Linked DNA regions of Homo sapiens. The protein of the gene in region 2 interacts with the protein of the main gene of each other region in a biochemical or structural test. Each region holds a gene or a part of one and is shown on either strand. Other genes may lie near its edges.

What was found.
Region 1: the proteins of UBE3A (region 2) and PRKACA form a complex in vitro, tested with the Homo sapiens proteins (2 studies listed by BioGRID, with this or other methods).
Region 3: the proteins of UBE3A (region 2) and UBQLN1 form a complex in vitro, tested with the Homo sapiens proteins (2 studies listed by BioGRID, with this or other methods).

What each region holds. Positions count from the first base shown.
Region 1 is NC_000019.10:14,099,887-14,107,762, forward strand, and holds part of PRKACA (cAMP-dependent protein kinase catalytic subunit alpha), read right to left. Parts: coding exon of another isoform or gene 7,825-7,876; intron 7,524-7,824; coding exon 7,462-7,523; intron 7,003-7,461; coding exon 6,874-7,002; intron 3,029-6,873; coding exon 2,930-3,028; intron 1,023-2,929; coding exon 940-1,022; intron 1-939.
Region 2 is NC_000015.10:25,332,183-25,338,732, forward strand, and holds the end of UBE3A (ubiquitin-protein ligase E3A), read right to left. Parts: 3' UTR 1,546-6,550; downstream 1-1,545. UniProt on the Homo sapiens protein: E3 ubiquitin-protein ligase which accepts ubiquitin from an E2 ubiquitin-conjugating enzyme in the form of a thioester and transfers it to its substrates.
Region 3 is NC_000009.12:83,697,083-83,704,958, reverse strand, and holds part of UBQLN1 (ubiquilin-1), read left to right. Parts: intron 1-7,876. UniProt on the Homo sapiens protein: Plays an important role in the regulation of different protein degradation mechanisms and pathways including ubiquitin-proteasome system (UPS), autophagy and endoplasmic reticulum-associated protein degradation (ERAD) pathway.

The sequences.
Region 1 (7,876 bases), on a different chromosome or scaffold from region 2:
GGCTGGAAGTGCAGTGGCGCGATCTCGGCTCACTGCAAACTCCGCCTCCCGGGTTCACGCCATTCTGCCTCAGCCTCCCGAGTAGCTGGGACTATAGGCGCCCGCCATCACACCCGGCTAATTTTTTTGTATTTTTTTAGTAGAGACGGGGTTTCACCATGTTAACCAGGATGGTCTTGATCTCCTGACCTCGTGATCCGCCCGCCTCGGCCTCCCAAAGTTCTAGGATTACAGGCACGAGCCACTGCGCCCAGCCAATTTTTTTTTTTTAAAAGAGACAAAACCTCACTATGCAGCCCAGGCTGGTCTCAAATTCTTGAGCTCAAATGATCTTCTCACCTCAGCCTCAGGACTAGTGGGACTACAGATGCATGCCACCTTTTGGGGCTCAAAAAATGCACAAAATCAACAACTTCAATTTTTTTTTTTGAGACGGCATGTCACTCTCTCACCCAGGCTGGAGTACAGTGGTGTGATCTTGGCTCACTGCAACCTCTGTCTCCTGGGTTCAAGTGATTCTCCTGCCTCAGCCTCCCAAGTAGCTGGGATTACAGGTGCCCACCACCATGCCCAGCTCAGTTTTGTATTTTTAGTGGAGACAGGGTTTTGCCATGTTGGCCAGGCTGGTCTCAAACTCCTGACCTCAGGTGATCTGCCCACCTTGGCCTCCCAAAGTGCTGGGATTACTGGTGAGAACCACCGTGCCTGGCAGCAACTTCAGTTTGGACACCTAAGTTGCCCTGTTTGCTCTGTTTTGTTTTGTGGTGGTTGAAATATCACATATTCCTCAGCAGAGGGGAAACAGAAACCCACAGGGTCTGGGAGACCACCTGCATGTTGAAGTATGCTGGACTCCTCTGCATTCCCAGGGGGCTTGGTCGTGCACTGCCACCTGTGGACACCCTGACAGCCTGATGTGATGGGGGGTGGCCCGCTTACCTGAACCTTCCGATCCGCCGTAGGTGTGAGAACATCTCCCCGCCGGGCACGTACTCCATGACCATGTATAAGTTTGAGTTGTCCTGTGGGAAGCAGTGGCTGGTCAAGGGCCCACCCCTGAGACTTGGACCCGATCTGAAGGCCTTGGGGGCCTCCCCGGCTGGTGTTCAAACATTAAATGACAACAGCGATCCTGGCTCCCTGTAGGAATCATGTTCTACAGGGGCGACCCTTATCCTGCTGTTAATGGGTGAAAGTGAGGGCTGGCTCAGAGGTATGTCAGGACCTGGTTAGCCTGCCTTGGCTGGAGAGAGAACTCTGTAGTACCTTGCTCTGGGAGCTTGAGTAAGGCTCTGAGGCCACAGTTTTGTCATCTGTAAAATGGGATCATGATAGGCTGCAGAATTAGTGGGGCCCAGAATAAAAAAGATGGCCCCTGGTTAAAAAATTATTACAGAGGGTCGGGTGTGGTGGCTCATGCCTGTATAATCCCAGTACTTTGGGAGGCCAAGGTGGGTGGATCACTTGAGCCTAGGAGTTTGAGACCAGCCTGGGCAACATAGTGAGACCCCGTCTCTGCAAAAATACAAAAATTAGCTGGGCATCATGGCGTGCACCTGTAGTCTCATACTCAGGAGACTGAGGTGGGAGGATTGCTTGAGCCTGGGAGGCAAAGGTTGTGAGCTGTAATTGCGCCACTGCACTCCAGCCTGGGCAACAGGGTAAGACCTTATCTTAAACAAAACAAAACAAAATGGCCGGGCACGGCTCACACCTGCAATCCCAGCACTTTGGGAGGTCGAGGCAGGCAGATCACCTGAGGTCAGGAGTTCAAGACCAGCCTGACCAACATGGGGAAACCCTGTCTCTACTAAAAAATACAAAATTAGCCAGATGTGATGGCACATGCCTGTAATCCCAGCTACTCGGGAGGCTGAGGCAGAAGAATTGCTTGAACCCAGGAGTCAGAGGTTGTGGTGAGCTGAGATCGCATCATTGCACTCCAGCCTGGGCAACAACAGCCAAACTCTGTCTCAATAAAAAAAATAAAAATTAGGCTTGGCACAGTGGCTCATGCCTGTAATCCCAGCACTTTGGGAGGCCAAGGCAGGCAGATCACTTGAGGTCAGGAGTTCAAGACCAGCCTGAGCAACATGGCAAAATCCTGTCTCTACTAAAAATACAAACATAAGCTGGGCATGGTGGTGGGCACCTGTAATCCCCGCTACTCAGGAGGCTGAGGCAGGAGAATTGCTTGAACCCAGGAGGCAGAGGTTGTAGTGAGCCAAGATTGCGCCACTGCTCTCCAGCCTGAGCAACAGAGTGAGACTCTGTCTCAACAAAAAAAAATTATTACGGATCTCAAGACAGCAGCAGCAGCAAAGCGTTAAACCAGGTGTGGGGTCCCTCGGAGAACAGGCCCTTGTGCTTCTCTGGGTCAAACGTCCATGAAGCTGGCCCTGAGTGGCCTTTCCTGTTTCTCATGACCACAGCTTTGGATGGCACCCAAAACGGCTCCCAAAGGGCGCTCAAGACGTGCCTGGAACTGTCATGACAACCCCACCAGGCTGGAACTGGTATGATCCCCATTTTACCATGAGAAAGCTGAGGCTTGGGGAGATAAGTCTCTTGCCCGGGGCCACACATCAAGAAGTACTGAACTGGGAAATGAACCCCGGCTGCCTGGGGCAGAGTTTGTGCTCCTGGGTCAGGCTCTTACCATAAACCAGGTGCTGCTTTTGAGGGATGTTACTGAGGTTGGGTGACTCACCAAGGGTATCGAACTACAAACTGGCTGGACCAGGAACTGAACTTGGGTCTACCAGAGTCCCAGCCTGACTCCTGTCCCCTGATCTCCCTCCTCCAGGGATCTTGTTCTTCCACAAAAGAGAGCAGCCACTGATTGTCCTCAGCTCCGACCCCAGCCCTGGGGGCCAGAAGGCTGGGACCCAATGCAGTGACCCCCCGCCCTTGGCCACTGGGACCCCACCTTGAAGGAGAACTCGAGTTTGACGAGGAACGGAAAGTTGACAGCTTGCAGGATGCGCTTTTCATTCAGGGTGTGTTCGATCTGTTTCAGTTTCACCACCTGGGAAGGGAAGGAGGGGAGGGCAGAAAGGAGGGGGAGGTGAGAGGGGCCTCATTTCCCCTAATGCCTGGAACTAGGGATGCCGGAGCCAGGCCGGTTCCTTCAGCCAGAATCATTTGTGTGCCTGTGGCCTGTCGGGCCCTTAGCTGATGCTGAGGACACAGCATCAGGGAGGCTAGGGGCTGCTTGTCCTTGCACGGCACTAAGTCCAGGGCAAAGAATACATGGGTTACCCCCACAGAGGTCAGAGCCGTGGTGGAGGGTATCTTGGGGTTGTGGAGAAGCAGCCCCCAAGAAGCCCATGTAAAGTACCTGGCGTGGTCTGGGGAAGGGGGAATCAGACAGCGCTTTCTGGAGGAAGGGGCAGCTGAACTGAAATTGAAAAGACAGGCAGGAGAAGCCCAAGAGGTGGGGGGTTTAGGACCTGCCTTACCCTTGTCTAGAACACTCCACACAGCAACCTGAACCTCAGGCTAACAGCTCCTCAGCCATCAGCTGTCCCCTAATAGCAGATGCCATGAGCAGGCACCTGGCACCCAGTCTCTCACTGAATCAGGATAGAAGCCCTAGAGGCCCATGCTGGGAGTACGCCAGTTTGGAAGACCAGACACAGAGGGGAGGTGACTTGTCCAAGGTCACACAGCTGGCTGATGTCAGGCTGGTGTGTAACATGTGGCCAGCCTGGTCCCTCAGTCAGCTGTCAACTGCTTTGCTCACATAGCTGTGTCCTCAGAGTCTATACCTGCCCTACCCAGTTCAGTCCCCATTAGCCACAGGGGGATGCTGGGCCCTTGAAATATGGCTGGTCGGATGGGGAGCCAAATTCAAAAATTTTAAGTATCTAAAATATAAATTAAAAAACTGACACCAGCTGGGCATGGTGGCTCACGCCCGTAATCCCAGCACTTTGGGAGGCCCAGGCAGGTAAATCGCTTGAGCCCAGGAGTTTGAGACTAGCCTGGGCAATGTAGCGAGACCCCATCTCTACAAACAACAACAAGGACAACAAAAGCAATTAGCTGGGCATGGCACGACTATGGTCCCAGCAGCTCCAGAGGCTGAGGTGGGAGGATCATTTGAGCCCAACTGCACTTCAGCCTGGGCAACAGAGCAAGACCCTGTCTCAAAAACAAAACAACCAGGCCGGGTACGGTGGCTCACGCCTGTAATCCCAGCACTTTGAGAGGCCGAGGCAGGTGGATCACGAGGTCAGGAGATCGAGACCATCCTGGCTAACATGGTGAAACCCCGTCTCTACTAAAAACACAAAAAATTAGCCGGGTGTGGTGGCGGGCGCCTGTAGTCCCTGCTACTCGGGAGGCTGAGGCAGGAGAATGGCATGAACCCGGGAGGTGGAGCTGGCAGTGAGCTGAGATCACACCACTGCAGTCCAGCCTGGGTGGCAGAGCGAGACTCCGTCTCAAAAAAAAAAAAAAAAAAACAACAACCAGCCAGGCCAAAATGGTGAAACCCTGTCTCTACTAAAAATATTTAAAAACTGGCCAGGTGTGGTGGCTCACGCCTGTAATCCCAGCACTTTGGGAGGCCGAGGCCGGTGGATTACAAGGTCAGGAGATGGAGACCATCCTGGCTAACACGGTGAAACCCCATCTCTACTAAAAATACAAAAAATTAGCCAGGCGTGGTGGTGGGCGCCTGTAGTCCCAGCTACTCAGGAGGCTGAGGCAGAAGAATGGCGTGAACCCGGGAGGCAGAGGTTGCAGTGAGCCAAGATCGTGCCACTGCACTCCAGCCTGAGCGACAGAGCGAGACTCCATCTCAAAAAAAAAAAAAAAAAAAATTAAAAAATTAGCTGGGCGTGGTAGCCGGCGCCTGTAATTCCAGCTACTCAGGAGGCTGGAGCACAAGAATCGCTTGAAACCCGGAGGCAGAGGTTGTAGTGAGCTGAGATCATGCCATTGCACTCCAGCCTGGGCAACAAGAGCGAAACTCCATCTCAAAAACAAAACAAAACAAAACAAAACAAAAATTAAACTCTTGATGCAGGTACTGGTGACTTTCAGGCATGGTTGGAACAACTTGGGCATGTGAATCTGCTTTTTCAACTTCCCTGCTTTTTCTTATCTTTCCAGGAAAAATTTACCATCAGAGTTGAGAACTGTTGTAAGCATACAATAGACACTGGATTTTAAAGATACTTCAGTACAGAAAAAAAGGAAATATTTCCGAAGTCATGGAGGACTGGGAAAAAAACAAAAGGAATGTAAAATGTTTCATTAATGATATTTTCACATTGATAATATATGGAAAGGGTAATACTGTAGATATACTGGCTTAATTAAAACATATCATTAGGCCAGGTGTGGTGGCTCACATCTGTAATCCCAGCACTTTGGAAGGCTGAGGCGGGCGGATTACCTGAGGTCAGGAGTTCGAGACCAACCTGACCAACATGGTGAAACCCCAAGTCTACTAAAAATACAAAAGTTAGCTGGGCGTGGTGGTGGCACCCATAATCCCAGCTACTTGGGAAGCTGAGGCAGGAGAATCACTTGAACCTGGGAGGTGGAGGTTGCAGTGAGCTGAGATCACGCCACTGCAGTCCAGCCTGGGCGACAAGAGTGAGACTCTGTCTCAAAAAAAAAAAAACATAAAAAAAAGCCCCAAACATGTCATTAAAATGAATTTCATGAATGACACCTGTTTCTTTCATTTTCTCTTTTAATTACAAACTTTGGGTGTTTTTTTAGAGATGGGGTCTGGCTGTGTTGTCGAGGCTGGAGTTGAACTCCTGGGTTCAAGTGATCCTCCCACCTCAGCCTGTCTAGTAGCTGGGACTACAGGCGTGCGCCACCGTGCTTGGCTGTTTTTACTGTTTATGATGGAGCAAACAGAAAATTTAAAATTGCTTCTGTGGCTCAGGTTACATTTCTGCTAGTTACATTGCTGCTTTATAGCAGTGCCTGGTATAAAGTCCGATCACAAAAATATTTACGGGAAGAAAGTGCACATAAACACCACTTCCCCCAAGAGTGCTCTTGTTCTCCTCCTGTTGGGCTGGTGTCTGACCCTGTGTCACAGTGCCTGGCTTTGAATCCATGGCCGGCCTGGAGAGGGAGCTTTGGGAAGGCGGCACAGGGCCCTTCTGACCCCTGGGGCTGGCACATTATGGGGGCTCGGGGAATAGTGGGTGAGCCTGGCATGGTGGCTCATGCCTGTAATCCCTGTGCTTTGGGAGGCTGAAGTAGGAGATCACTTGAGGCCAGGAGTTCAAGACCAGCCTGGGCAACACAGCAAGACCCCCTGTCTAAAACAAAAAACAAACAAACAACAAAAAAAAATTAGCCAGGCATGGTAGTGTGCGCTTGTAGTCCCAGCTACTCAGGAGGATCTCTTGAGCTCAGGAGTTTGAGGCTACAGTGAGCTATGATCACGTCACTGCACTTTCCTGCTTGGGCAACAGAGCAGGATCCTGTCCCCCACAAAAAAACCAAGCGGCCAGGCGCGGTGGCTCACGCCTGTAATCCCAGCACTTTGGGAGGCTGAGGCAGGTGTATCACCTGAGGTCAGGAATTCGAAACCATCCTGGCCAACATGGCGAAAACCCATCTCTACTAAAAATACAAAAATTAGCTGGGTGTGGTGGCAGGCGCCTGTAATCCCAGCTACTCGGGAGGCTGAGGCAGGAGAATCGCTTGAACTAGGGAGGTGGAGGTTGCAGTGAGCCGAGATCACGCCACTGTACTCCAGCCTGAGCGACAGAGCGAGACTCTGAATCAAAAAAAAGCAAGTGAGTGAACGGGTGGATAGGGCACTCTAAGGAGTGGGCACAGTCCAGGCAAAGGCCTGACAGGCAGGCCCTGAGCGAGGACAGGCCACCTCACCTTCTGTTTGTCGAGGATCTTCATGGCATAGTGGTTCCCGGTCTCCTTGTGTTTCACCAGCATCACCCGCCCGAAGGAGCCCGTGCCGAGGGTCTTGATTCGTTCAAACTGATCCAAGTGGGCTGTGTTCTGTGGGCAGAGGGGTCGGTAGGCTCAGGGCACGCCCTCCCCGCGGCCTGCTTGGCTAAGGTCTGGGGCATCCCCTCTGCCACCGGCAGAGGGGGCCCCGGGGAGCACGTGGGGTCAGCGGGGTGAGGACAGGGGGCGGAAAATCAAGATGGCAGAGGGCACATTCCTTAAGGCGGGTGGCAGGGGCCAGATCCGGCCCTGGCCTGGGGCCTGGAAGCTGCTGGCAGCTGTGCTGGGGGCAGGGGCGGGCCGTTGGGAGGGGTGGTGGGATGGGGGTGCCTGGCATTGGGCAGTCAGGTGTCTCCACACAGGAGCCCCCATGGGCACCTAGGGAGCAAATGGGGAGGGTCTGAAGCCTTCTATGGGGTTTCTGAAATTCTAGCTGTGTTGCTGGGACACAGCCAGGGGCTGGGGGTTAGCAGCTCACCCCTCCCTGGGCTCTGCACCCGGCAGCCTTACCTGAGCGGGACTTTCCCATTTTTTAAGAAAATCTTCTTTGGCTTTGGCTAAGAATTCTTTCACTGAAAGGGAGAGAGGGGAGAGTTATACAGAGACGCCCGTCTCACCGGGGTGGGTTCAGGTGATTTCTGGGGAGATACTTGGTGGAAAGTGGGGTGCAGTTCCAACCCAGAGCCTGACCTTTTTCTGGTGCCTCTGGGGCCTTGGCTGGGCCGTGGCCTGGGCCTCCCTTGCTACAGAGAGGTGGGATCCAGCTGCCACTCCATCCAAAGTGGGGTACAGAGAGTCTCAGGGGTCACTCGCAGGGGAACGGAGGGAGGTGCCCAGGCAGACCAGCCCACCCCCACTCGCCCCAGTTCTGACCGACATTCCATGGCCAGGGCCGACGCCAGCCGAGGTATTTATAGCCTTGGGA
Region 2 (6,550 bases):
TAAAATGAAAAGTGATTATGTCTTTGCTTAACGTCTGCAAAATAAAAGTCCAAAGTCCTTGGTATGGTCTATAAGGCCCTCATTATCTGACCTGCCTGCCTTCCCAATCTCATCTTAATCCCTTACAGCCTGACACTCAGACATACTAGACTTTCCACCTAACTCACTCACATACACCTATCCTGTATGTCAAGATTCGGCTTGACCTTCATCACCTACCTATCTGCAGTATTTTTGGATCTGAATTCTCTGCCCACATTGTACTTTCACATACTTCTTTTACCCTTAGTGGTTTGTACTTATGCCTGGTCTAACTAGATTGTCTCCCTGTAACAGACTTCTTGATTCAACAAAGCAGCTCTGAATCAGCCTGAAACCTATGGCACACTGCAAAATGGCAAACATTCAATAGGTATTTGCCCAGTAAATGTTAATGAAAGGAAAAAAATTCAAACTTCAGTTGGAATAGGATTAGAGACAAGTTAAAAAAAAGTTTCCCATAGAAATCTTCCTCATCGTAAATATCATCATCCTAAATGTCCCGAGTCTTTCCATGGGTCTAATTTACCAAATCATGAAGACTCTCTTTCTCACTGTGTATGTGTAGTGGGAGAGGCAGAGACAGAACGGTTTTTTTTTTTTTTTGCAAGTCTGCTCTCTGGATTCGTTTTTCTGGGGATGAAATCTCAGGCTATGTAGCTTTTCTGGTCCCTTTTTGGTAATCAACAAATCATCAGTTTCTCTAGGTATTAAAAAGCCTACACTTTTGAAACACCAAGAGGCCAAACTCTCTCTTAATTGAAAACATAATTCTGCCTCTTACTGAGGTCTTTGGGTGGGAAGCTTAAAGACAGCAGTGTTGGGGCAATTGGTTTTTCTTTTCCTCCCTCCACCTTCTTTCCCATTCAAGAGCTGTTGCTGCCCTTTCTGGAGGGGAGGGAATTAGAAAAAAAGATCCTGCCTTACCCAGTCACTGTTAATTATTACTTTGAGCCAGGGTGGGGAATGACTTTCTTTCCTGGAATACACCCTGCTGGAAACCACAGCTGAGATTCTCTAAGCTGGCAGCTTCCAACCTCTCCTCCCTCAACAGCTTCAACATTATATGGCACTCAGCTGCAGGGTGCCTGGCTCCAGGCCGGCAGTCCATTTGTGCAGGGTAGTTTTCAAGATGGCTCATAGCCCATCTCTTTCAGTGACCAGCGTGGCCTATGGGAAACATACATCTTGACTCCATTATTGGTAGGAGTACTCTTTAGTTAACTGCCACAGGCCAGTTCAGACACGTCTTACCCTGAGAGCCTTTTCAGAGTCAGGTACCATCCCTGTGTCCCCCAGCATCTGAAGATCACAGGTGAAGGTCTCCAAGTAGTTCACTTAAAAAATACCTCAGTAGGTTTAAGAACAGGGAAAGCTCCCAATTCATTCTGTCAGGAGTATGACTCTCATCCCCAAACTGGACAGATATATAATATGAAAACTACAGACCAATATTCCTTATGAATATAGATGCAAACATTCTAAACAAAATACTAGCAAACCAAATCCAGCAGCATAGAACAAGGTTTATGTAGCATGGACAACTGAGATTATCCCAGGAATGCAAAGTTAATTCAATATACAAAAGTCCATTAATACAACATATTAATAAAGGACAAAACAACATGAAAATCTTGATACAGAAGAAGCATTTAACAAAACCCACAGCCCCTCCTTTTTTTTTTTTTGATTAAAAAACACTCAGTAAACTAGGTTTAATAAAAGAATTTCCTCAACTTGAAGCAAACCCACAGCTAGCTAACATCATACTCAATGGTGAAAGACTGAATGCTTTCCCCTTAAAATCAGGAACAAGAAAAAGATGTCTGCTCTTGTCACTTCTATCCAATATTGTACTGGAGGTGCTAGCCAGCACACTAAGGCAAGAAAATGAAATAATAGGAATCTAGACTGGAAAGGAAGAAGTAAAAGTATTTCTGTTCACAGATGCATGATCTCATATGCAAAAAATACTAAGTGACAAAAAAAGAATTTTAGAAAAGCTACAATATACAAAATCAATATACAAAAATTAATTTTATTTCTAACACCAGTGATGAATACAAAAATAAAAATTAGAAAATAATCATATAATTAAAGTGGCATCAGTAAAATACTTAGAAAAAAATTAAAGACGTCAAGACTTGCACACTGAAATCTCTAAAACATCACTGAAATAAAGACCTAAGCAAATGCAAAGACATCCCACAGTCATGGAACAGAAAACCTAACACCATTAAAATAGCAGTTATTTCTCAAATTTATCTACCAATTCAACTAAATCCCTATCAAGATCCCAGCTGTTTTGCAGGAATTGACACAATGATCATATAAAAATTCATATGCAATGCAAGGGACCCAAAACAGACAAAATGATTTTGGGGAAAAAAAAAAAAAAAATGGAGGACTTGCACATCCCAAATCTAAACTTACTACCAAGCTACAGCCATCAAGACAGTGCGGTGCTGGTATAACGACAGACATATAGGGCAATGGAGTAAGACTGAGAATCCAGAAAGTCTTATATTTATGGTCAACTGTTCTTTGACAAGGGTACCAGGACCATTCATGGGGAAATAATAGTCTTTTCAACAACTGGTGCTTGGGCAGATGGATATACAGATACCAATGCACTTATGCAAAAAATGGATGAAATAGGAAACTTCACTACATTCTACTGCATGCTCGGTCATTTTCAATCATTTAGGTGGCAACACTGACAAGATAACAGAAAGATGGAGGTAATAACATGTGAAAGGCAAAATGGTTTGTTTTTTTTTTTAAAAATGACAGTCTCTATCATGAATTTACTTACACTCCAGGCAAAGGTTATTAGAAGAAAAAAAGATGTAAGAAAATTCCTTAACTGAAATGTGGAAAGAGTATCAAGAGGAGACCCTAAGACACTCTGTAAGAATCCCAGTGACTCCTCACTGTTCAACTAAGAAATGTACCCCATTATGCTGTGCTACCACGGAAGCATTGGAGGCACTTTGGGGGTTGATGAAGTCTTCATGGATGAGGTACTTTAAATATCTGGTCATGAAGAGTATTTGAGAAATATGACAAGTGAAGATGCTGGGTAGGAATGCAGCGAGGAAAGTGTGTAACACAAGGCCAAATTGGAAAGGTCAGTGAGGGGGCAATCTGTGGAGGCACTGAATGCAGAGGATATTAAAATTAGCAAGATAGTGTTCTAGCACAATGAAAAGGATTGGAAGAGGGAGATGAGAGTCAGGGAGTGAAATTAGGCAGCTGCTAAGAATGTCCGGGTGAGTCAGAGGATCAGGACCTGTAAGGGCAGTATAAAGAAGGAAGGAATGATGGGAGAGGTTTAGGGGGAAAGAAGTGACAACCTGTGACAATTGAGGAATGAGAGATTTTGATGATTGGGGTGAAGGTTACATTTCTTAAAAAGAAACAAAGAATGGTCGGTCGATAGAGATGCAAGATGAAGAATTTTGTTTTTAGGACTACTGACTATGAGGTAACAAAGAAATCCCAGAGACAGAGGTCTGAGCAAAAGATATGGGATTGGGGAAGAATCTTTGGGAGTGACTGAGGTTGACTAGAGGGAACTGGGCAAGAACAGGTAAGGACTTTAAGCAGAATTGGAGGAGTATCCATCTAAAATCTGGGTAAACTGGGATGGAAAAACAAGTAGCCAGAGAAGCAACAGCCCAAGCTAGGGTGTTGTCAAGGTTATAGATGTTACTGATTTTGGCAATGAGGAGATTATAAGGATCCTTGAAGACTGTACTTTCGGTGAAACTACCATGCATTAGTAGCCTTTCACAGTGATATCTACCCCACACCTGCATCAAAATCTTGCAGTGCCTATTAATAAATGCCAACCCACTAACGGGGAGGGGAGAAAAGACTTGGGACTCTGTACTTGTAAAACCCTCTACCCTCCCCAGGCAATTCTTTACACACTAACACTGTTGAGGTAAAAGGAGACAAGTGAGGGAGCAAATGGAAGGTGTGTTTTTGGATTATACAGTGGCTCATGGAAGGGTGGGAGGGGTACAGATGGCCCTTAGACACTGGCGGAAAGTCAGAGAAAAAAAATTACAGTAAGCAGGTAAAGGGATCAAGACTACACAGGGACTAGTCTTGGGACGACATTTCTTCCTCTGACAGTTTGTATGGAATTCTTGAGAAAAATTCCTCGAAGGGGCCTGAAATCTCAGAATGGTCATGTTTTTAATGGGAATAGGGAGTGATGCTGCCCCATTACAACCATCTGTTCTAACAGAATGTCTGTACCGAGGAGGGATGAGTAACATCGGCAAGTTCTGTTCGAAGCCTTTTTCAAGTTTCTTTTTGATATGTATCTATCTATCTATCATCTCCCTATACAAGCAAGCATCCCCAAAAGTAGTTGTCTCAGGAAACCAGGGTTAGGATGACCAGCTCATTTGCTGGAGCTGCCAAGGTCCAGAAAAGTTTGGCTGCAGGCTGTTTTCATGTTTTATGTATGTTTGAAATGTTCTATAATAATAAAAGGTTAAAAAAGTTTACATTTATTTGGAAAACCAGTTACTTTAGTTTATGGTTCCTTTTTTTCCCTCCAGAGCTTCCTGGAGATTGAGGTCTAATTCAAAGAAAACCAAAATATATAATAGAGTACCTGGGCAAAAAAAGTACTTTTATAACATAACATTTGGGGTAGAGGAAGTATCCACTGTAGTCAAAATGTCTATGTTTTGCTCTTCCTTATTGTTCAGGGACATTCCATTAAATAGTAATGAAAAGGCAGCAAAAGTAAGAGGAGTGACAACATGCCCGGCATAATTAAGCAAGCTAGAGCAGCTATTCTGTGCAACCGACGATTTTTTTTCTCTAAAATTTTAAGGGTAGGTTCATTCTGACTCTGTTAAAAGTCTACTTGATGTGAACAACTCTATATCTGATAACCTATTTCAATTACCACTTTAAAACTTGTCATATGGATACGTTATTACAATTGTAGAACTTTAATAAATACCATAATAATAAAACTTGAGAACTGAAGAGCACACATTTCTTCACGAATTTATTATATAAAACGCCCTCAGAGTATTTAATTTCTCCTCACTTTAATTACACATTAAGAAGCACAGTGGATGAGAAGCCTTTAAGATGACTACAGTTGCACGAAGGTCCCTTTCATCAAGGTAGCGTATGTACCCTAACAGTGTTCTAAAGGCTGGCCCAGAAAAACCCCATGTTACCTTATCACAATATGGAAAGCATTGTCTTCTTTTTCCACTAAATTAAATTATGGTGAAAAGTGCCACAGTTTTATTTAGCATTATGGTACATAACAAACAGTTCTGTCTCAATTATGAAAAAAATTAATTAAAATAATCCTGAAAGACATCCTTTTTCTCCCCCCAATGATTTGAAAGCTGCATTTTTCCTGCCAATTTCAAACAAACAAATCATCAGGTTGATCTACAGTAATCAGTTAAAACAATCAGTCAATCAATCAATCAATCACCAAGGCACAAGCTCAGCACATTAGCTATAGCTTGTAGCAAAAGGATATATCAATGTCTCACCTTAGTTAAAAATACATAATCCTTTTATTTTATAATGCAATAAAAGAAATTAACAACATCACATACACAGAAGACTAGGAAAGGGGAAACTACTTACTTCTGGAAATCAGTAATGTAAACCTACTTGTACTTTTCCATAGTACATGAAAGTAACGTTTAACATGTTTTGAATTAATTAATTAAATTTAATCTGTGGGGCTATACAATGTAATTCTTAGGAGTAATAGTTTCATTCATTTCCAGGTCAGCTTACTGTATGATTAAGTAACACAAGGCACAGTAGCCATCTTTTTCATTATGTTGCAACACTGATCACGTGCCTCGATAAAATGGCTGATTCAACAAGATGATGGCAACACGAAGGGGAGACTTTGGATTGTCTATTTAAAATCTAGGTAATAAGTAAGTAATTAATAAAAACTCTATCTTAAGTGCACTTTCACATGCTTTTTGTTTATAATAAACAAACAACAAACTTCCTAACTTTGTTGCAATAGGCTTGACTACCATTTCATTTGGCCAAATGCACTTTCCCCAGTAAACTTAAAACAACAACGAGAACAACAAGAACAAAAATCCCTGTCCTTTCATATACTAAGAAAGAGGATTGGCTACTGAAACAGTTCATTGCAAGACACATGAAGACGACATACTGTGGCATGAGTTGTTTTTGTTTTTAATTTGTTGTGCTGTTACTAAAGTTCTGAGGGCTGCAGTTAAAACATTCCAATTTCTCCCTTCCTTCCATCTTTCTTTATTGATTGATTCTCAAGATTTTGCACAGAAAACTCTTTGGGGGCTAGAACAGCAGTAATTGCATCACACTGTTTTCAAGACTTCAAGTTTCAAAAGCAAATCATTAAAAAAAATACAGTTCCTGATTTGAGTTAGATACAGGGACAAAAAAGTAGCACATACTTGAAGGTTACGTGGTCTACAAATGGTGGCAATATTTTCCTTGGGAG
Region 3 (7,876 bases), on a different chromosome or scaffold from region 2:
CTTTCAGTCAATATATGATGTTATAGCTGTGAGGATGTTTTTGCTTTTTGTGATGTTAAAATTATAAATTCTGTGAACGCTTTTATTTTACTCTGCTGTAACCAAAGTGAGATTTTTTTTTTTTTTTTTTTTTTGAGATGGAGTCTCTGTCACCCCCCAGGCTGGAGTGCAATGGCATGGTGTCGGCTCACTGCAACCTCCCCTTCCCGGGTTCAAGGATTCTCCCACCCCAGCTTCCCTAGTAGCTGAGACTACAGGCGCATGCCACACCACACCCGGCTAATTTTCCTATTTGTAGTAGAGACAGGGTTTCACCATGTTGGCCAGGCTGGTCTCGAACTCCTGATCTTGTGATCCGCCTGCCTCGGCTTCCCAAAGTGCTAGGATTACAGGTGTGAACCACCGGGCACCCGGCCCAGTACGAATTGTTAATAGATAAAATTAAAGTCTTTCTGAAGTAGCCTTTTCTGATGGTAGTTTATTTTTAAATTCTTGATCATTGTTTTATGTTGAAGCAGAAAATGTGATAAAAATTGACGCTTATCACCACACCAGAGAACCTGTAGACAAGTTGGGCTTTGTATATGCAAGGGAAACAGATACAGGAAAATGTGGAAGAAAAAGAAAAGCAGTTTTCAAATGACCTATTTGTAAAATCTACTTGAAGCACAAAAGATATGCCATTTTATAATTTAAAAATTTTAAAGGGTTTGATTGAAACTGTTTGTTACAAATGAAAATTTGTCATTAAAAATACTTAATGACATTAAAATTCCACTGAAAGTGTCCAGTTAGAAATTGGGAAATATTTAGTCTTTAAAATTTGTACCTAATTTTGGAGGGTCAGAGGGTAAGCCGAAGACCTCCAGAGGATAATATTGAAGGCTTATGCTCTGTATCAGACAAATTCCGTTTTCTATAAGTTAAAATTTCTTTCAATAAGTATTTCTATGTAATGTAGATTCCTTAACACATTATACCAAAATTCTGTTTATATGAACATGCTGTAATAAGTGATTAGATGAAATTACGTTAAACTTCTTGGGTAAATTGTAAGGTGGTAATTTATTTTCCTATTTTTCCATTGGTTTCTGGTCGTGAGTACCAACAGGCAGAAACAGGTTGCCTTAATTTTTTACAGTGCTATATACATTTGGTATTTAATAATGTTACTTGTTCAAGGTTACTAATAAAGCTTAAGCTTTTTTCCAATTTAGAGTGAAATTTATTATTCACGGAGCACTCAGAATCAACTGAGTAACATAAATTTTTACTTACAGGTTGCTAGAATAGGTAGTGAGAATATAAACTGCACTGTGTACATTCCAAGGTGCTGTCATTAATAGAGATTTTTGTAATACAGGTTTTGAGTATCCCTTATGGGAAATGCTTGGGACCAGAAGTGTTTGGGACTTTGGATTTTCTTTTTTTTTGGATTTTGGAATATTTGTATATACATAATGAGATATCTTGGGGATGGCACCTAAATATAAACATGAAATTCAGTTATATTTCATGTACATTTTATGCACAGAGCCTAAAGGTAATTTTATACAATATTTTAAATAATTTTGCGAGTGAAACAAACTGTATACATTGAACCATCAGAAAGCAAAGGTGTTACATATGGGATTTTTCCACATGTGATGTCATGGTGTTAAAAAATTTCAGATTTTGGAGCATTTCAGATTTCATATTTTTGGATTGGGGATGCTCAACCTGTATGTAAGTAAATAGATACAAAAGCATAAATGTGTAGTGGCACAAAGTCCCTGTGTATGAGATTTTTTTTTTTTGGTTAATTGTTCATCATCAGCTATTGAAAAGAGCTTTGAGGATTTCCAAGTATCCACGAGCAAGATAACATCTAGAAGAATGGAGAGTTATATATGTGAGACATTAGTGCAGATAATGGAGGGGAGTTTCTGTGTAACTTCTAATTAGCTTATTCTGGGATTTCATAGACTGTTAGGTTATGTGTAAAATTTTGAAGTACATTTACTTGAAATGTTCAGGCAGTATATACTCTGGTTTTAGAAAGTGCCTTCTGTCAGTGCAAACTTCTGGGAAAATATTAATATACTTAGACATAATTTAAACGTATTGAGTCAAATTGAGCCTTTCTTTGATAAGGCAACTTGCCTTAGGGTCATCATCACACACATGATTTAACGTTATACTGTATAGTGTGGATCTAGAACTATACTGTCCACTTTGATACCATCACCCACATGTGGTTAAGTACTTAAAAAGTGAGATGTGTTAAGTGTAAAATTTATACCAGATTTTGAAAATTTGGTATGAACAAAATAAATATCTTAATACTTTTGATATATTATGTATTGAAATAGTATTTTGCAGATCGTGAGTTAAGTAAAATATCAAAATTAATTTGACCTTTTATTAAAAACTTTTTTTTCAGTATGGCTGCTTAAAATTTTTAAATTACTTGTGGCTTATATATATTTCTGCTGGACAACATCTTATCCAGAAGGTTGGATTGAATCAGTATAGCAAGATATCTGAGAAAAAAAATGTCTGTGAGATCATTGTTTTCTTATTTGCTTTGTTCTAATACTGGACAGCTGAAAAACTCGTTATTTAATGATTCTGATTAACAGAGATTGCTTAGCTTTTTTTAAGAAAGAGCGTAATTGAAGTGTAATTTGCCTACCATACAGTTCACCATTTTAAAGTCTGTAATTGATGTAATACATTCACAGGGTCGTGTAGTCAATTTTAGAACGTTTAGAACCCTCAAAAAGAAACGCTGTACCCTTTAGCAGTTGCCCTTCGTTTCTCCCTGGGCCCCCCAGCCTTAGGCAACTACTGATCTATTTTTTGTCTATAGATTTGCTTGTTCTGGGCGTTTGTTGTAAGTGGAATCATGTGGTCTTTTGTGATTGGCTTTCACTTAGCATAGTGTTTTCAAGGTTCATCCCTGTTGAAGCATGTGCCGGTACTTACTTCCTTTTTATTGCCGAATAACATTCCATTGTGTTGCCAACAGCATTCCACATTTTATTTTTCTATCACGTGGTGGACATTGGGTTGTTTCTACTTTCTGGCTATTGTGACTAATGCCTCTGAACACTCATGTATAAGTTTTTGTGGGGACATAACGTTTTCATTTTTCTTGGGTGTAGATCTTGGAGTGGAAATTGCTGGGTCAAAGCTCTATGTTGAGCTTTATGAGGAGCTGCCAAATTATTTTCTAAGGTGTCTGTACCATTTTACATTTCCACTAGCAATGCATGAGGATTCCGATAACCACATTCTCGGTAATACTTATTACTGTCTTTGTGATTATAGCCATCTTACTGGCTGTGAAATGGTATCTTACTGTGATTATTTTGCTTTTTATTTTCATTATTATTTTTGCTGGGGGCACTCTGAGGAAAACTGGACAGCCTGCTAGACAAATTTGCTTTTTGTTATCTGAGCAGTAGTTCTCACTGTGGTTTGGGGAGTCCCCATACCCTGTTAAGGGTACCATGAGATGAAACTATTTTCATAGTAATTCTGAGATGTTATTTTTATTTTTCAGTCTAATTTTCTCAAAACTGGGCAGTGCACTTGGCTAGAGTCTTTAAGGTGTGGGATATGACAACAGATGTGAAAATCCAGCTGTCTTCTATTACAAGACTAAAGTGATTTCCAAAAATTTAAAATAATGCCACTCTTATCACTGAGAAAATAGTTATTTTTCATAAGGATGTTATTTTTATTAATATATAATGTATTATTTTTAAATGAATTTATTTTTAAAGGTTATTCAGTTTTAATTTGTAATATTATAAATATCAACAGCTATAACCTAAACAAGCAAAACTCTTTGGAGTTCTGAAGTTGTAAAATGGTGTCCTGAGAGCAAAAATTTCTGTGGTGGCGTATTTTATAGATTACGTACTTAAAATATCGGGTAGTGGCTCCAATAAGTTGCCATTACCTCTTGCCTAGAAACTGCAGTAGCCTACTGGTCAGTTGCCTGACTTCTATAACTCTCCCACCAGCCATTCCAAGAGTGATCTCTGAAAAACGTTAATCAGAGCATGCCACCCTCTGTGTAAAGCTAATGGCTCCCTGTTGGTCTTAGAATATATAATGGAGTAGCGAGGCCCTGTGTAATACGGTTCCATGCCCTCTCCATTTTTTGCAGATGCCTTCTTTCTTTGCTTGCTTGGCTGACTACATTGACCTTCTAGTTCCCTGACCTGTTAATACTTTTTTTCCTGCCTGAGGACTTCTGTACAGTTTGTTCTTGCTACCTAGAATGCAAGAACACTCTTTGCCCATTCCTTTTCCATCTTTAAATCTTAATGCAAAGGTCAGTTTCTCCAGGTAGTATCTATTTCTGATTGTCCAGACTGGATTGGGATCCCCTGTTGGATTTCTCACAGTAGCCTGTTTTTGATAAGAATTCATCACAACTAAAAATTGTATATTTATGTGATTCCTTCTCTTTAGAGAGGGGCTGTGATTGTTCACCATTGTGTTACCAGAGCCTAGGGCTCAATAAATTATTTACAGATGAATCTAGTCCATTATGTACAATAATACATATTCAGTAATAACTACTTATTGTTGAACCTTTACTGAGTGTAGTATGTACATAATCTGGTAGCTCCCAGTCCTTTTGTGGAAGCTTCCTCTTAAGCTGTTCCCCCCAGGTCACCACTCTCCAGGCACAACTCTTGACTGCTTCATGATGTTCACTCTTGCTTCTCTGCCTGGAACATTACTCTTCTAGAACCACCTTTCTTAGCTGGAGATTCTCATCTGAACCACAGAGCACAGAAAGTGATATGAATAGCTATCCATTTCTTTTCAAAGATGGTTCATAATGAATATAATTTTAGATGTATAGGAGAGAAGTTAATTCATTACATAGTGAGTGGTTTGTTGGTAAATGCTGGTTTATCAACCCGTTCTTCAGGAAAAACACTGATTTGTAGTGTTTGCTGGATTTCCATGATGTAAATATTCTCACTGTGGCAGATTTCAAGATACCGTTATTAAACTGGCTCACAAAATTTATGAAAATTTAAGAGCCATTGCTTATAATGGGTGCCTTAGGGCAGAGGCCAGCAAACTGGTAGTCGAAATCTATTGTGCCCATTTGCTTATGTGTTATCTATAGCTCCTTTCAGAATAGACCATGTGGCTGGTAGAGCCAAAAATATTTACTGTCTAGCCCGTAACAGAAAGTTTGCTTACCCTGGTATTAGGGCTTCCTGTTAATATATCTTGTTCATCAAAACACTTCTCATTGGAAATTTTTACCATGACTTATTTTTTATAGAAATACAATGTGAGCTGGGCTCAGTGGTTCATGCTTGTAATCCCAACACTTTGCGGGGCCAAGGTGGCAGGATTGCTTGAGCACCATGGCTCAGTGATCATGGCTCACTGCAGCCCCCACCTCCTGGAGTTCGAGACCAGCCTGTCTACAAAAAAATAAAAATTTAGCTAGGTGTGGTGGCACACACCTGTAGTCCCAGCTAGTCCAGCAAGGTTGAGCCCAGGAGTTTGGAGGTTACACTGAGCTATGATTGCACCGCAGCATTCCAGCTGTGGTGACAGAATGAGACTTGGTCTCTTAAAAACAAAAAACAGTATGAGCCACATATGTAATTTTCCTATTAGCCACTTTAATCAAAAGGAAGGACTGAAGTCAATTTTTCAATAGTGGTGACTCACACATAACAAAATTTATCATGTTAACCATTTTTAAGGGTTCACTTCAGTGACATTAAGTACATTCACATTGTTGTACAATTGTTACCACCATCCGTTTCCAGAACTCATCTTGCAAAACTGAAACCCTGGACCGTTTAAACAGTAACTCCCCATTTTCCCCATTCCCCCACCTCTAGCAACCACCATTCTTCTTTCTGTCTCTGAATTTGACTACTCTAGGTATTTCATATAAGTGGAATAAGACAGTGTTTGGCCTTTTGTGATTAACTTATTTCCCTTAGTATAACGTCCACAAGGTTCATTTATGTTGTAGCATGTGTCAGAATTTACTTTTTTTTTTTTTTTTGAGACAGGTCTCACTTTGTCACCCAGGCTGGAGTGCAGTGGCACAATCATGGCTTGCTGCAGCCTCCACCTCCTGAAGTTCAAGTGATCCTCCTGCCTTAGCCCCCCAAGTAGCTGGGACTGCAAGCTCACATCACCATGCTTGGCTACTTTGTATTTTTTTGTAGAGACAGGGTTTCACCATGTTGCCCAGGTTGGTCTCAAACTCCTGAGCTCAAGCGATCTGCCCCCTTGGTCTCCCAAAATGCTAGGATTATACAAGTGTGAGCCACCGCACCCAGCCAGAATTTACTGTGTATGACTGAATAATATTCCATTATATGTATGTACCACATTTTAAAAATCCATTGATCTGTTGCTGGTCGCTTGGGTTGCTTCCACCTTTTGGCTATTGTAATTTTAATATGCTTTATTTAACCCAGTATGTCTAAAATATTTTAAGGTGCAATTGATATAAAGACTATAAAATATCTTGCATTTTGAAATACTAAGTCTTTGAAATATATTTTGTAATTTACACTTAAGCATACCTCAGTTTGAAGTAGCCACATTTCAGGTGCTTAATAGCCATATGTAGCTAGTGACTGCTGAATTAGCACAGCTAATAAAGCTTTCAGGATGTGCTTCCACCTGCCTTTTCTCCTGTTTTCATTGCATTTCAGCCAGTTTGTATTGTCTCTTCCCCTACCCTCAAATATCACTGGCTCTTTCTTCCCCTTTTTGAACCTTTGCAAATGCTGTTAATGACAATGACATAATGGCCAATATTTATTGCAGGCATGATTTATAAGGCATGATGCATTATATTTTTTTAAAATGTCACATAACTTTATGATGAAAGCACTATTATTATCCTTTTTTTAAAAAATGAAGATGCTGGCCAGGCATGGTGGCTCATGCTGCTAATCCCGGCACTCTGGGAGGCCGAGGCGGGTGGATCACATGAGGTCAGGAGTTTGAGACCAGCCTGACCAACATGGAGAAACCCCGTCTCTACTAAAGATACAAGATTTGCCAGGTGTGGTGGTGCATGCCTGTAATCCCCAGCTACTCGGAAGGCTGAGGCGGGAGAATCGCTTGAACCTGGGAGGTGGAGGTTGCAGTGAGCTGAATCGTGCCATCGCACTCCAGCCTGTGGGATAAGAGTGAGACTTCGTCTCAAAAAAAAAAAAAAAAAAAAGGGTACAAAAAATAGCCGCGTGTGGTGGTGCATGCCTGTAGTCCCAGCTACTTGGGAAGCTGAGGTGGAAGAATCTCTTGAATCTGCGAGGCAGAGGTTGCAGTGAGCTGAGATCTTGCCACTGCAGTCCAGCCTGGGCGACAGAGGGAAACTGTCTTTTTTTTTTTTTTTTTTTTTTTTTTGAGACAGTGTCTTGCACTGTTGCCCCGGCTGGAGTGCAGTGGTGCAATCTCAGCTCACTGCAACCTCCGCCCCCTGGGTTCACACAATTCTCTTGCCTCAGCCTCCTGAGTAGCTGGGATTACAGGTGCACACCACCACACCCAGCTAATTTTTTGTATTTTTAGTAGAGACGGGGTTTCATTATGTTGGCCAGACTGGTCTTGGACTCCTGACCTCATGATTCGCCTGCCTTTGCCTCCCAAAGTGCTGGAATTACAGGCGTGAGCCACCGCGCCTGGCCTATGTCTTAAAAAAAAAAAAAAAAACCAGAAGATACTGAGACTCATATTAATAATGTGATCAAATTCATACACATATTAAGTAGTAGACTGTAGATTCAAACCCAGTACAAACTTGGGAGGCCTCACCGATCCACTGCCCCAAACTGCCTTGACTTTCCTTTGACTGGCTTTTCAGTCTTTAAAGTTC